Linked DNA regions of Homo sapiens. The protein of the gene in region 1 interacts with the protein of each later gene in a pairwise test. Each region holds a gene or a part of one and is shown in the gene's direction. Other genes may lie near its edges.

Evidence for each region. The genes of interacting proteins can lie anywhere in the genome.
Region 2: the proteins of USP33 (region 1) and RALB interact in a two-hybrid assay, tested with the Homo sapiens proteins (one study listed by BioGRID).

The regions. Positions count from the first base shown.
Region 1 is NC_000001.11:77,721,853-77,728,852, reverse strand, and holds part of USP33 (ubiquitin carboxyl-terminal hydrolase 33), read left to right. Parts: intron 1-140; coding exon 141-558; intron 559-3,090; coding exon 3,091-3,231; intron 3,232-5,409; coding exon 5,410-5,522; intron 5,523-6,656; coding exon 6,657-6,829; intron 6,830-6,927; coding exon 6,928-7,000. UniProt on the Homo sapiens protein: Deubiquitinating enzyme involved in various processes such as centrosome duplication, cellular migration and beta-2 adrenergic receptor/ADRB2 recycling.
Region 2 is NC_000002.12:120,255,492-120,262,859, forward strand, and holds part of RALB (ras-related protein Ral-B), read left to right. Parts: intron 1-7,368. UniProt on the Homo sapiens protein: Multifunctional GTPase involved in a variety of cellular processes including gene expression, cell migration, cell proliferation, oncogenic transformation and membrane trafficking.

The DNA.
Region 1 (7,000 bases):
TATGCTCTCCAAACTGGTATTTGCTCAATATAGTGCTGTACCTTCATATATAAGTTTGTAATGACATTTTGTATATTTTCCCTTACGTTTCTATATACACATGTAATGAAGTGGTTAACATTATGTTGCTGATATATTAGGATGCTCAAGAATTCCTTCGATGTTTAATGGATTTGCTTCATGAAGAATTGAAAGAGCAAGTCATGGAAGTAGAAGAAGATCCGCAAACCATAACCACTGAGGAGACAATGGAAGAAGACAAGAGCCAGTCGGATGTAGATTTTCAGTCTTGTGAATCTTGTAGCAACAGTGATAGAGCAGAAAATGAAAATGGCTCTAGATGCTTTTCTGAAGATAATAATGAAACAACAATGTTAATTCAGGATGATGAAAACAATTCAGAAATGTCAAAGGATTGGCAAAAAGAGAAGATGTGCAATAAGATTAATAAAGTAAATTCTGAAGGCGAATTTGATAAAGATAGAGACTCTATATCTGAAACAGTCGACTTAAACAACCAGGAAACTGTCAAAGTGCAAATACACAGCAGAGCTTCAGGTGACAATTTAGTAGTTTGTTCATGAAAATGATAGTATTTCATTTGTAGACATGGGTGTTTAAATAATTGTTACTTTGGGTATTTCTAATTAGAATTATAGTTTAGCAGTATTTGCATGTGAGTATTAGTCATAAAATTATAGAACCCGAGGATAAAAGGAATTTTTTGGGTCATTTAATTATATAAGAAATTAATCCTCCTTTTGAAGTAAACATTTCATCAGATGTCTTTTGTGTAGTCATGCAGTAATCTAAAAAATTGGGCTCCCCAGAATTTTCTCTTTTATTTTAAGCAAATTATGTTGCGATCCTGGAAAAAAGCAAATAACCCAAATTGCAATTTTCTAATTATATACACTAGTAGATTTAGATTGTTGTCATTGGAGTCACATCAGATGTGTTTTAGTGTAGAAGTTGAATTAACTATAGTGAGCCCTGCTGTGATAGATTATGCCATGATACTAGTCAGTGTTCCTTTGAGAAAGAGCATGTGGCCAAATGAAAGTTGAATTGCTTTGTAATTTATCTCTTCAAGAGTTAACTTATCTTGGCTTAAAATGTGGTATGTAGTTTTCCAAAGCACACAAAATTGGGCCATTAGAGGTTCAAATTATGTGATCTTAAAATAAGTGGCAGACATGTAATGTAAAAAAGTTTATTTTCTGTAATTACTGAAGAGTGAGAGTAACTAAGCAATTTATTTAGGTATTTGAATGAATCCAAAATTTCTTCTTGAAAATATTATTAACTATAGGAAGACTTGTGGTTCACTTGGGTAAAGTGCACAGATGCTTTCTAATCGGGAAGACTAGGAGTGTTAGGCTCCTTAATTATACTGATCTTGTGTAGAAGTTGTTAGTGAATAAATATGTCAGGTATCAGTATTGAAAGACTTAGCTTTGACTGCTGTCCAGGCTTTTCTTGTCAAAAGCCCAGTTAAGCCTGATTAGGGACATACTCATCTTTGATTGCTCTGTAACAGGTTTGTTCTTACACATAGTAACAAGGGGATGACCTAAATCAGGAGTCTGAGCTTTTAGGTGTTTTAAGGGCTTGATGAAAAAAATCTGGCGAAGTCTGTAAGGCACACAAACCTAAAACACTTCATCTCTGGTCCGTTAGAGGAAAAAATTGCCAACTCCCCATCTAAATCTCATTAACTTTATTCCCTTCAGAAAGTCCTAGAGTGAGTTGTTTTTTCACTCCCAATATTATGCAGTCTGATTTAGTCATGATTGAAATATTGAGAAATGCCTGTGTGAAAAATGATTTTGCATTATCTGGAAAAATTTCTGAGTACATCCCCTTTCCAGATCTCTTACGAACAATTCTCTTTTCTTCACTCAAATAGTTACTGAGCACATTCCCTTGCCCTGGAATATGTTAGGCACTAGGAATCCAAAGCAAACAATCAAGGTAGCTCTTATATTTTCTTGATTCATCTTATAATTTAATTCTAAAAAAAGATTCTTTCCTGATGAAGTGGTGTATTTTTTATTATAGTAAGATAAAATAACTTATGATTACTTTATACCTACATTTCTTGATTTTGATTATTATGTTAGTTTGGGAGAATAATCGATTTTTCTTTCACATGGTTTTAGAACTTCTAAAAACCTGTCCTGAATATCTTTTTTTTTTTTTTTCCTGAAACAGGGTCTCATTCTGTCACCCAGGCTGGAGTGCAGTGGCATGATCACATCTCACCACAGCCTCAACCTCCTGGGCTCAAGTGATCCTCCCACCTCAGCCTCTTGAGTAGCCAGCACTACAGGTGTACACCACCATGCCCAGCTAATTTTTAGATTTTTTTGTAGAGATGGGGGTCTCATGATGTTGCGCAGTTGGTCTTGAACTCCTGGGCTCAAGCAGTCTTCCCACCTTGGCCTCCCAGTGTTGGGATTGTAGGCGTTAGCCACCCAGCCTAGCCTCTTTTTTTTTTTTTAATGCTATATTTGGACAAACAAGATCCTCTTTGGCTTTGTATTTCCACTGCTCACTTCCTAAACTGCCTGTAATAGTCGTGTGTTATAAACATTAGTTGGGATTGGGCACGGTGGTTCATGCCTATAATCCCAACACTTTGGGAGGCCAAAGTGGGTGGATCACTTGAGGCCAGGACTTTGAGACCAGCCTGGCCAAAATGGTGAAACCCCATCTCTACTAAAAATACAAAAATGAGGTGGGCCTGGTGGCACATGCCTGTAATCTCAGCTACTTGGGAGGCTGAGGCAGAAGAATCGCTTGAATCCAGGATGCGGAGGTTGCAGTGAGCTGAGATCGCACCTCTGCACTGCAGCCTGGGGGACAGAGGGAGACTCTGTCTCAAAAAAACAAGTAAACAAAAATTAGTTGGATTTCTGGGTAGAAGATTACTGTTATTTTGCTTAGTAAGCACTTTGTTAAGTATTTAACTTGACATTTGTTAATATGATTGTGTTCAAAATATCAAATTAAGAAACCTTTAACATTATTGGACAGTTAGAATAATTTTACTATTTAAGGTAATAATGCAAATTTTAAATCTTACAGAATATATCACTGATGTCCATTCGAATGACCTGTCTACACCACAGATCCTTCCATCAAATGAAGGTGTTAATCCACGTTTATCGGCAAGCCCTCCTAAATCAGGCAATTTGTGGCCAGGATTGGCACCACCACACAAAAAAGGTAAAACGTTTCTCTTATTCAGTCTCTTTTGCTTTGGGTCTTAGTTTAAAATGATGGTTTTGGTACTTGATAATTTAAAGTGTTAATTATGAAATATGATTTGATCTTTTAAAATTGATAGCATAATTTTACATAGACATGATTAAAAATTTTGTGTGTTGGTACTCTGCTTTTAAAATTTTACATACAGTTGAATTCACTTTTTCTTGTATAGAGCTTTATGAATTTTAACACTTGCAGCATAGATTCTTGTTACCACCACCACAAACAGAATACAGAACAGCTCTAACACCCCAAAGAATTCCTGCATAGTACTACTTTGTAATCAGATCATTTCTCTATTCCTATGTTCTGGCACCCTTGATCCTCTTTTCTTATTGTTTTGCCTTTTCCTAGAATGTCATATAAATGAAATCATATAGTATGTAGTCTTTTGATTTTTTTAAATCTTTTCATATGTAGTCTTTTGAAACAGGTTTGCCTCTCAGGATAATGCATTTGAAATTCAGATATGTTACTGCGTGTCTGAATAGTTTGTTCCTTTTACTACCAAGTAATGTTTCTTTTTTTTTGTTTTGTTTTGAGATGGAGTCTCACTGTCGCCCAGGCTGGAGTACAGTGGTGCAATCTTGGCCCACTGCAACCTCTGCCTGCCAGGTTCAAGCAGTTCTCCTGCCTCAGCCTCCCGAGTAGCTGGGACTACAGGTGCACGCCACCATGCCTGGCTAATTTTTTGTATTTTTAGTAGAGATGGGCCATGCTGGTCTCGAACTCCTGACCTTGTGATCTCCCCACCTCTGCCTCCCAAAGTGTTAGAATTACAGGCATGAGCCACCATGCCCGGCCTAATATCTCATTTTTTATGGGTATACCACTGTTTATTTACCTACTGGTGGACTTTTGAATTGTTTCCAATTTTTGGCAATTATGAATAATGTTGCTCTAAAATTTATGTATAGGTTTTTGTAAGAACATTTTTTCATTTGTCTAGGACAAATACCTAGAAGTGGGGTTACTGGGTTTTATGTTTGTTTAATGCTTATAGTTGTATTAAACTGCCAGACTTTTTACCAGAGTGTCTACCATTTAGTATTCCTTCCAGGTATATATGGGAGTTCCAGTATTATGTTTTCTTAGAAGAAAACATAGGAGAAAGTCTTCATGGCCTTGGGTTAGACAAAGAGTTCTTAAAGACATTAAAAGCATGATCCATTAAAGAAAAAAATTAAAGATTTTTGTTGACAAAGGACATTCAGAGAATGGAAAGATAAGGTTGGATGTATTTATAAATCATATAGCTAGCAAAGGACATGTATCCAGAAATATATAAAGAACTCTTAAAAACTTTAAATAATAGAATCTTTTCTTCAAATAAAGCCTTACCTGGAGACAAAAACAAATAAGTGAAAACAGAATTGCTCTCAAGTCAGGATAGGGAGACCGAACCCCTTCTATTTCATCTTTAGCTTGATGATGACTTTCATCATCTTTCCCTCACTTTCTAACCTCTTCCCCTCTTCTTTTGACTTGTAAAACATTTAAGTAAACATCCCAGTGATGAAGCATTTGTGGTTTTGTGCTAATTTAGAATTTTGTTCATTTTCTCATATGTACATTTATGGTGGCCAAGGATCATTTATACTTTAAAAAAAAAAACAGGCTGGGTGCGGTGGCTCACGCCTGTAATCTCAGTACTTTGGGAGGCTGAAGTGGGTGGATCATGAGGTCAGGAGATCGAGACTATCCTGGCTAACATGGTGAAACCCTGTCTCTACTAAAAATACAAAAAAATAGCTGGGCGTGGTGGTGGGCGCCTGTAGTCCCAGCTACTTGGGAGGCTAAGGTAGGAGAATGGCATGAACCCGGGAGGCAGAACTTGGCAGTGAGCCGAGATCGCACCACTGCACTCCAGTGTGGGCAACAGTGCGAGACTCCACCTCAAAACAAAAAAACAAAAAAAAACAACAAATATCTTAAGCCTTGTCTGCTTAGTTTCTTTTATTTTTTTAATACTTATGCTCTTTTGAAGAGTATTTTGAAAATTTTCAACACAGTAATTTTTACAGTTTAAGGATTCTAGAGATCATATACAAGTAAGATTGACAAGACAAAAAAAGATTCCAGAGAAAAATGTTAAAGGAGCTGCTTTGATTTTTTTTTAATGTTTTTCAATCCTAGCTCAGTCTGCATCTCCAAAGAGAAAAAAACAGCACAAGAAATACAGAAGTGTTATTTCAGACATATTTGATGGAACAATCATTAGTTCAGTGCAGTGTCTGACTTGTGACAGGGTGAGTATGAGGGTATTAGAATACACAGAAAATTCGTGTCAAATGATTTTTAAAAATGTGACAAGATGATGTGAAAAGTTTAATTCCTTCTCTTTGCTATTGATGAGCATACATGCATTTATTGTGTTTACATCAACACAAATTTGATTCTAGGTGTAGAATTTTTTTTGGAAGTAGCAGCATCCTGTTTAAAGGATGGTGACCCATCATTGGACAGGCACATATTATCCTTCGTCATCTATTTTGGTTACATATAAAGGTGAGAAGTTGCTCAGCAACAAGAATTGGTAACACCTGCATATTCTCCCAGGCTGATGAAATTTGTATACTGGGAATCTGTTGATATTCACAGGTACAAAGCTGTGAATGTATCTCTTACATTTGGTCATATATGGTTTGTAAATATTTTTCCATGTTTAGGATGGGACTCAGATACTAAAGGTAGTATCAAATTCATAGACAATAACAAAGCATACATTAAAATCATCATGAATTTTTTAATAACACTTCTTCAAAGTTTCTTTGAGCTTTTCTTAAGTACAGTTTTACTTTAGTGCAATGATGAATATGAAATAACATCTCAAAAACAAAAAGAAGATTTCAATTATTGTGTTAGAATCTCAAGTCAAATCTAAGAACTTTCAATCGGGTCGTTTTAATGTAGGTTATTTTGGTACTAAATATTTAAGTGGAATTATCAGGCATGTTTTTAGCTATTTAAAATTAGATGCCAGATTTTGTCTCACCCTTTTAAAAAAATATTTTAAAACTACCATCAAAGGTCAATTTTCAAAAATAAATACAATAGTGCTTAAGAGTTTGGACCTCAAGATGCAGTGGCTGGATTTGGGGTGTTTAATGCTGCAGTGTCTGTGATTGTAATGGGGATGCTAATACTACTGCACAGGACTTACGTGAAGATACCTGGTACAGAGCAAGTGTGTTTTGTTTTTTGTTTTTGTTTTTTTTTTTGCTATTATGACTATGAAAGCAGTTCAATTTGCGTGTTTTTTTTTGTTTTTTGTTTTTTTTGCTTATTTAAACATGCTTTGATCTTTAGAGTCTAAAATCTAACCTTGGAAATGTTTTACTGCATTATGTTCATCCCATTTTTAAAACACAAAACAATTTTAGGTGTCTGTAACCCTCGAGACCTTTCAAGATCTGTCCTTGCCAATTCCTGGCAAGGAAGACCTTGCTAAGCTGCATTCATCAAGTCATCCAACTTCTATAGTCAAAGCAGGATCATGTGGCGAAGCATATGCTCCACAAGGGTGGATAGCTTTTTTCATGGAATATGTGAAGAGGTATGTATTTATTTTCTTTGTATTACATGATTGTTAAACCTGCTGTTTCTGCTGTACTGGCAGAACACTTCCTTTTTTTTCTATCAATGATGTTTCAGGTTTGTTGTCTCATGTGTCCCTAGCTGGTTTTGGGGTCCAGTAGTAACCTTGCAAGATTGTCTTGCTGCCTTC
Region 2 (7,368 bases), on another chromosome or scaffold:
CTCCTCAGTTCTTTTGGTACCTAGGAATATAAATATTGGTGTATGTGTACATATATTCTTAGATATTCCAAAAAGCAGAGGGGCCAGTAGGCAAGAGGGTTGATGAGTCTTGGATAGGTGACAGTGGAAAGAAAGATGAAGAGGATGTGGAAGTGAGTGTCAAAGAGGGACGGTATATGTGCTTACTAGAAGCAATTGCAAAATTCTAGCCAGGTCTCAATTTCAAGTTTGTCACTTTAAAAAAAGTAGCTGCTTATAATTTTCCTTAGTGTTCTCCTGGCTGTTTTTGTTTTTGGTGATGGTGGCTAGTTGTTTTTTAGTTGAAATCTAAATGCAGAAAAGAAAAATGCCATTAATTGATAATTACCAATATATTGTTTTCATTGTTGCTTTTGTCAGTGCTTTGTGGGCATTTTTTATATATAGCATTGTTCCAAGCTATACGGCATGAGATGAAGGAAATATAGTAGTTTGGTCCTGCGTGCCTGGCTGCCTGTAAAGTTTGCCTACCTTTTGAATGAGTTTTCTGTTGCTGCATAACAAATTTCCCCAAACTTAGCAGCTTAAAACAACAGACATTTATGATCTCACACAGTTTCTGAAGTTGAAATCTGGGGACAGCTTGGCTGGGTGCTTCTGGCTCATGGTCTCTCCTGAGGTTGCAGTCATCTGAAGCTCGACTGGGACCAGAGGATCTGTTTCCAAAATGGCACGTTCACATGGCTGTTGGCTGGAGGCCTCAGTTCTACACCATGTGGGCCTATGCACAGGGCTTTTCACAACATAGCTTTTCTCCCCAGAGCAAGTGATCTGACGGGGGTGGGGAGAGAGGGAGAGAATGAATATGATAATGATCAAGATGGAAGCAGCAGTATATTCGTGGCTGATATGGTTTGGCTGTGTCCCTACCCAAATCTCACCTTGAATTGTAATCCCCATAATCCCCATACGTTGTGGGAGGGACTCGGTGGGAGGTAATTGAATCATGAGGGCAGTTTCTCCCATACTGTTCTCCTGATAGTGAGTTCTCACGTGATCTGATGGTTTTACAAGCGTCTGGCATTTCCCCTGCTGGCACTCATTCTCTCTCCTGCTGCCCTGTGAAGTGGTTCCTTCTGCCATGATTGTAAGTTTCCTGAGGCCTCCCCAGCCCTGCGGAACTGTGAGTCAATTAAACCCCTTTCCTTTATAAATTACCCAGTCTCGGATATTTCTTCATAGCAGCATGAGAACAGACTAATCCAGTGTCTAATCTTGGAGATGGCATACCATCCCTTCTACCAGCATTCAGACCAGACCTGGCACAATGTGGGAAAGGACTACAAGAGGGGAGGTCAGGGCACATCAGTATTCTTGGAGGCTAGCCACCACAACTTTTTTAAGGTTTAGTCCAGACATCATTGAGAAAATCTTTCTTTCAGATGTTTACTGAAGTATACTGTAGGAGATGGAAAGACAGCTGAGGTCTTTAGTATTGTAGAAGCTTTAATACTATATGTGAAACTTTTATGTTCTTTCTTCCGGTTCTTTGTTAGATGCTGGAATTAGCCAAGTATGCAGTAGCTTTGGAAATAGAAATTCAGATCTTGCTGGTCCCTAAACCAAAAGGAACATCTGAATTTTTTTCTTTAACCCCAAAACAAGTTGGTAAAAAAATATTGCCAAAGTAATCTCCTTTGATGAATGGCTTAAAATTAGTCATTCATTATCTGTGTGTTCTTAAAAATAAAACTCATTGGCAAAGTAGCTGAAAAATTTTGGGGAACCTAAACCCTCTTACTCCTCCCCATTATTTTAAAACTTTGGATACTGCTTGTTTGCCTAGCAGTTCTTCAGTTCACTTTTGAGACCCTCATACATTTTAATTATTGACCTGGATAGAAGGGCGCTATTCTTTTAGCTCCAGATGAAATCTTCCTGAAGTGCCTATAGGTGGAGAGAAGAGTTTCTGGATCCTGAGCCTGAGCCTGGCTAAATGACCTCTAAGTCCCTTCCATCTCTGAAAATTCTATGATCCTTATTTTTTTTTTATAACGAATATCCTTTGAGTTGTGCATATTTATAACAAAATATTTCATTGATCATGTTAAATTGCAACCTCAGAAGACAAGCTTTTCTGAGAATAGCTTTTGTTCTTCCCAATCCAGTTGAAGGTTGTTAGAGTCACTGTTAGGCAGAGTTGAAAAGTCAGCACTATTTGCACTTCCTCTGCTTCCTATTTTTGGCCCCTTGCCCATCCTCTGCCCTAATTTATGAGCTAGTATCTTTCTTTTCTTTCATTCTACTTTCCTTGTAATCCCCCTCCTTCCTCCCACAGGAAGGATTGGTGGCCAGTCCTTTACTGCTGATAGCTGATGCTATTGTTAGGAATGAATTTTAGCCAATGTGTTACCTCTAGTAATACTTGCATGGCAAACCTTTTAAAAATCTCAAATTATATGTGTTCATGTAGTAAACACTGCCATTTTTTAACATCCTAAGTAGCCCTAAAATTTAGTCACTTTCCTCATGTGCATTGTTGTCTCCTTAGTCCCCACCGTGTTGCCGGCCTGGCCTGGTGCATACCCACATCTGCTCTTGACCCCTCTGTTTTTCTACTCTGTAGCCAGAATTACCTTTTCAACATTCAAGCCTAATTATGTTACCCATTGACTTGAAACACTTCAGTGGCTTTCCAGTGCTTTCAGTCAAAGGTCCCAAATCCCTCAACTTGGCCTACACTGGGGTCTTGAATGATCCCGCCCTTCCTTACCTCCTCAGTGTCATCTTGTACTGGGCTCTGCCTCTTTCTCTCTGCTGCAGATAGCTGTGAAGGTCTTTCTCGAGTTTCTTGAGTGGACTTTGCTTCCTCTTGCTTCAGGCCTTCCTGAATGCAGTGTGTGTGTGTGCAGGCACGCGTGATTGGGGGTGGGGGAGTGTGGAGGAGTCCTAGGTAGGAAAGCGCTTGGCACATTCACAGGGCTGGAAGAAGGCAAGGAAAAGGCCACGGAGGCCACGGCCAGTGGAGGGTTTAGCTGCCGCTCATGGTGAGCCTTTAAGGAGCGTTAAGCACAGTTTCATGTGCAGTGTTAGAAGCCCCATTGGAAGGGCTGTGTGGAGAACAGATTGAAGAGGGGCTGGAGTGGTAATGAGGGGTCACTTAGGAAGCTGGGGCTGTTGAATGAATGGTGGCAGAGAAGATGGAAGAAGTGCATGGCTTTGAAATGTATGTTGGAGATGGAATAGCTAGAAATGGTCATGAATTGAGCTGGGGAGAGGCAATGGGAGTCAAAAATGACTTCCAGGTCCCTGGCTTTGGTAACGATACGGATACTAGCGTGTCCGGAATTGGTGGGTTCTTGGGCTCACTGACTTCAAGAATGAAGCCGCGGACCCTCGCGGTGAGTGTTACAGCTCTTAAGGTGGCACGTCTGGAGTCTGTCCCTTCTGATGTTCAGATGTGTTCGGAGTTTCTTCCTTCTGGTGGGTTCGTGGTCTCGCTGGCTCAGGAGTGAAGCTGCAGACCTTCGCGGTGAGTGTTACAGCTCTTAAGGTAGCGCGTCTGGAGTTGTTCGTTCCTCCCGGTGGGCTCGTGGTCTTGCTGGGCTCGGGAGTGAAGCTGCAGATCTTCGCGGTGAGTGTTACAGCTCATAAAAGCAGCGTGGACCCAAAGAGTGAGCAGTAGCAAGATTTATTGCAAAGAGTGAAAGAACAAAGCTTCCACAGCGTAGAAAGGGACCCCAGCGAGTTGCCAATGCTGGCTCGGGCAGCCTGCTTTTATTCTCTTATCTGGCCCCACCCACATCCTGCTGATTGGTAGAGCCGAATGGCCTGTTTTGTCAGGGCGCTGATTGGTGCGTTTACAATCCCTGAGCTAGATACAAAGGTTCTCCACGTCCCCATCAGATTAGTTAGATACAGAGTTTCCACACACAGGTTCTCCAGGGCCCCACCAGAGCAGCTAGATACAGAGTGTCAATTGGTGCATTCACAAACCTTGAGCTAAACACAGGGTGCTGATTGGTGTATTTACAATCCCTGAGCTAGACGTAAAGACTCTCCACGTCCTCACCAGAGCAGCTAGATACAGAGTGTCGATTGGTGCACTCACAAACCTTGAGCTAAACACAGGGTGCTGATTGGTGTATTTACAATCCACGAGCTAGATATAAAGACTCTCCACGTCCCCACCAGACTCAGGAGCCCAGCTGGCTTCACCTAGTGGATCCCGCACCGGGGCTGCAGGTGGAGCTGCCTGCCAGTCCTGCGCCATGCACTTGCATTCCTCAGCCCTTGGGTGGTCGATGGGACTGGGCGCCGTGGAGCAGGGGGTGGCGCTCGTCGGGGAGGCTCGGGCCGCACAGGAGCCCATGGAGTGGGTGGGAGGCTCAGGCATGGTGGGCTGCAGGTCCCAAGCCCTGCCCCGTGGGAAGGCAGCCAAGGCCCGGCGAGAAATCGAGCGCAGTGCCGGTGGGCCAGCACTGCTGGGGGACTCAGTACACCCTCCGCAGCCACTGGCCTGGCTGCTAAGTCCCTCATTGCCCGGGGCCAGCAGGGCTGGCTGGCTGCTCCGAGTGCGGGGCCCACCAAGCCCACGCCCACCCGGAACTCCAGCTGGCCCGCAAGTGCCGCACACAGCCCCGGTTCCTGCTCGTGCCTCTCCCTCCACACCTCCCTGCAAGCCGAGGGAGTGGGCTCCGGCCTTGGCCAGCCCAGAAAGGGGTTCCCGCAGTGCAGTGGGGGGACTGAAGGGCTCCTCAAATGCCACCAAAGTGGGAGCCCAGGCAGGGGAGGTGCCTAGAGCAAGCGAGGGCTCTGAGGATTTCCAGCATGCTGTCACCTCTCACTAGTAGTGACTTCAGTAGCTAATAAATGGGGGATAGTGAAGGAGCAGATTTTAAGAGGGAAGAATCAAGAATTCTATTTTGGGAATAAGTTGAGAATCTTGTGGCAGCCCAGTGGGCAGGGGCAGCAGCAAGGCTGTGAGCCTGGGGCCAGGAGAGCGGTCAGGGCTGCATCCTCAGGTTCGTAAGTTGTCTGTACAGCCACTGGGCTGTATGTGGTGCAGATGAGGAGGGAGCAAGACTGAGCTCCGAGAAGTGCTGACATCTAGATGGGGAGGAGGAATGCCTGGCAAGTGGCGCCGAGAAAGGGCCCAGAGAGCCACCCGGGAAGCACTCAGCCTGTGGGAGAATGTGGGCTGTGGAAGCCAGGAGGGATGGCCTCAGGAGGGGGACGCTGGAAGGGGCCCTATACAGGCCTGCTGCGGGCCTTCCCTTTCCAGGCAGCGTTTTGTCACTCTTGCTACTTGCTCATTTTAAAGAGGAGGAGGGCATGGGAAGGAAGAAAGAAGAGTTTTTATTGGAGCTAGCTACGTGGAGTTTGTGGGTGATCTTGATCTCACAAATTTCTGTGAGCTTATATTGGGAGGAAGTTGGATTGGAATGGTTTCCGTAAATAGTGAGGGAAGGAAACAAAGGCTTTTGCTACACAGTGTGGGGTCTGTGGGTCAGGAACATGATTAGAGACTAGGTTAGTGGTGCCAAATCTTGGGCTCCACTCCAGACCTACTGAATCAGAATATGCGTTTTCACAAGATTCCCAGGTAAACTATGCATTAAAGTTTGAGAAGCATTAGCACAGATAATTCCTATAGAGGAATTGTGTCATTAGCTAGAAGGATATATGGGGGTCAAAGGCACACACGCATGTGTGAATCTTTAGGGTGAAGATTCAATAGAACGTGTCTACATGCTGTTGGGGATGATCCTGTAGCAAAGTAAAGACTGATTGATGCTGCAGGAAGAAGGGTAGTGGTAGGAATTAAGTTCTTGGGCATGGTGGTGGTGGAGGGCTTGGCCTTTGCTAAGAGCAGGAATGTGTACTCCATGAGGCTGGAGACAAGGAGAAGAAGGGCGTGGAAGGTTTGTAGATTTGTTGAAGGAGCTCTGAGGGAGTTAGGGTTTGATGGCTTGGTGTTCTCTGGGACAAATGAGGTTAGGTTATCTGTCAAGAGTAAGCAGAGGGAGGGCACAGGGGAGAGTCACAGCGAGATTACTAGGAAGTGTGGGGGAATGCCCATTCGTGGTTTGTGATCATAAGTGCATTGAGAGTGGAGTGCTGGGAGGCTGCTTTCTTGAGTTTCTTTCCCTCGACAGCAGCATTTGCATGCTGGGTGCAGGTGCTGAAAACAGTGAGTGAGATGGAGGGGAAGGGAGCAGGGAGATGAGGTATCTGCAAGAGGGCTTTTCTCATGTCAGGCTTTGGGATCTAAGCTGGTGAAGGGAGGCAGTGCAGCCCAGAGGGTCTTGTTATGCAGAGAGAGAGTGCTGGAGGCCAATGCTTGCAGGTGTCAAGAGGGCAGAGAATTGTGTGTGGGGGTGGTATTTGAACAAGTGAGCAAGAAGGATGGAGGCTGAGGCTAGAGGGTTAGAGGAGATAACTGTTTCTGGTGACGGTGAAGTTCAGGTAATGACCATGATAATGTTAGATAGAAGGAAAGAAAGGGTTTTCGGAGAAGAGAGGATCAAGGACTTGAGAGGGGCCGAGCTTGGCTGGGACATCCACATGCACAGATGTCATTGGGGAGGACGACAGGAGTTGGGTAGAATGGAAGTCTGCAGACCAGAAGCAGATGTCCTCAATAAATGAGGGAAGTGACCAGGAAGTCTGTAGCTGATAGTAACAAGGTGAAGGACAGGCTATTATGGCTGGAAAGGCCAGGCCTCAAAGGTATGGGGGCTTTTGTAAGACGGATGGGGCTAACAGAGGTACTGAAGTGCAGGTGACATTGGGGAGGGAGGAAGGACACATATCTGGTCTGTCTGGCCCTGAAGCACATGGCATGGGAGGAGAAATAGCATCTGCTTGATGTGGTGTCCCCAGGGCACACCCAGGTCTCAGAGCTAGAAGGTAGAGGAACATTCTTAGAAGAGGTGGAGGCTCTCGAAGGGTTTGCTGGTGTGCCTGAGGTTGCAGGGACCAGGTGGGTTAGCCATTTCAGGAGATGGATGCAGTTCTGTTGGGTTGAGAGCCCTAGTCATAGGAAAGAGTGGGGACACCTGCACTTCTGGTGGTGACTGTTCAGGACAGATGTTCAGCAGTGTGCTCCCCTTAAGAGGAGGGTGGTCCTGTTCTAGCACCGTAGTTCCCAAACGTGGCTGGGGAGGTGGCAGCTTCCTTGTGTGATCCTCTCAGCCTTCACATACTGACACAGCAGGGAAGAGAAGGCAAGACTGTTTCTGTTAGAGCCGTTTCGGGAGTTGCTGGGGAGATTTAGGACAGGGACATCCTGAAATGCCCATTGGTTATGCCTCTAAGGCAAATTACGCTGTGTTTTGGGTGATGAAGAAAGAAGGGTGTGAAGGGCTTCTGTTGATGAAAATCTGC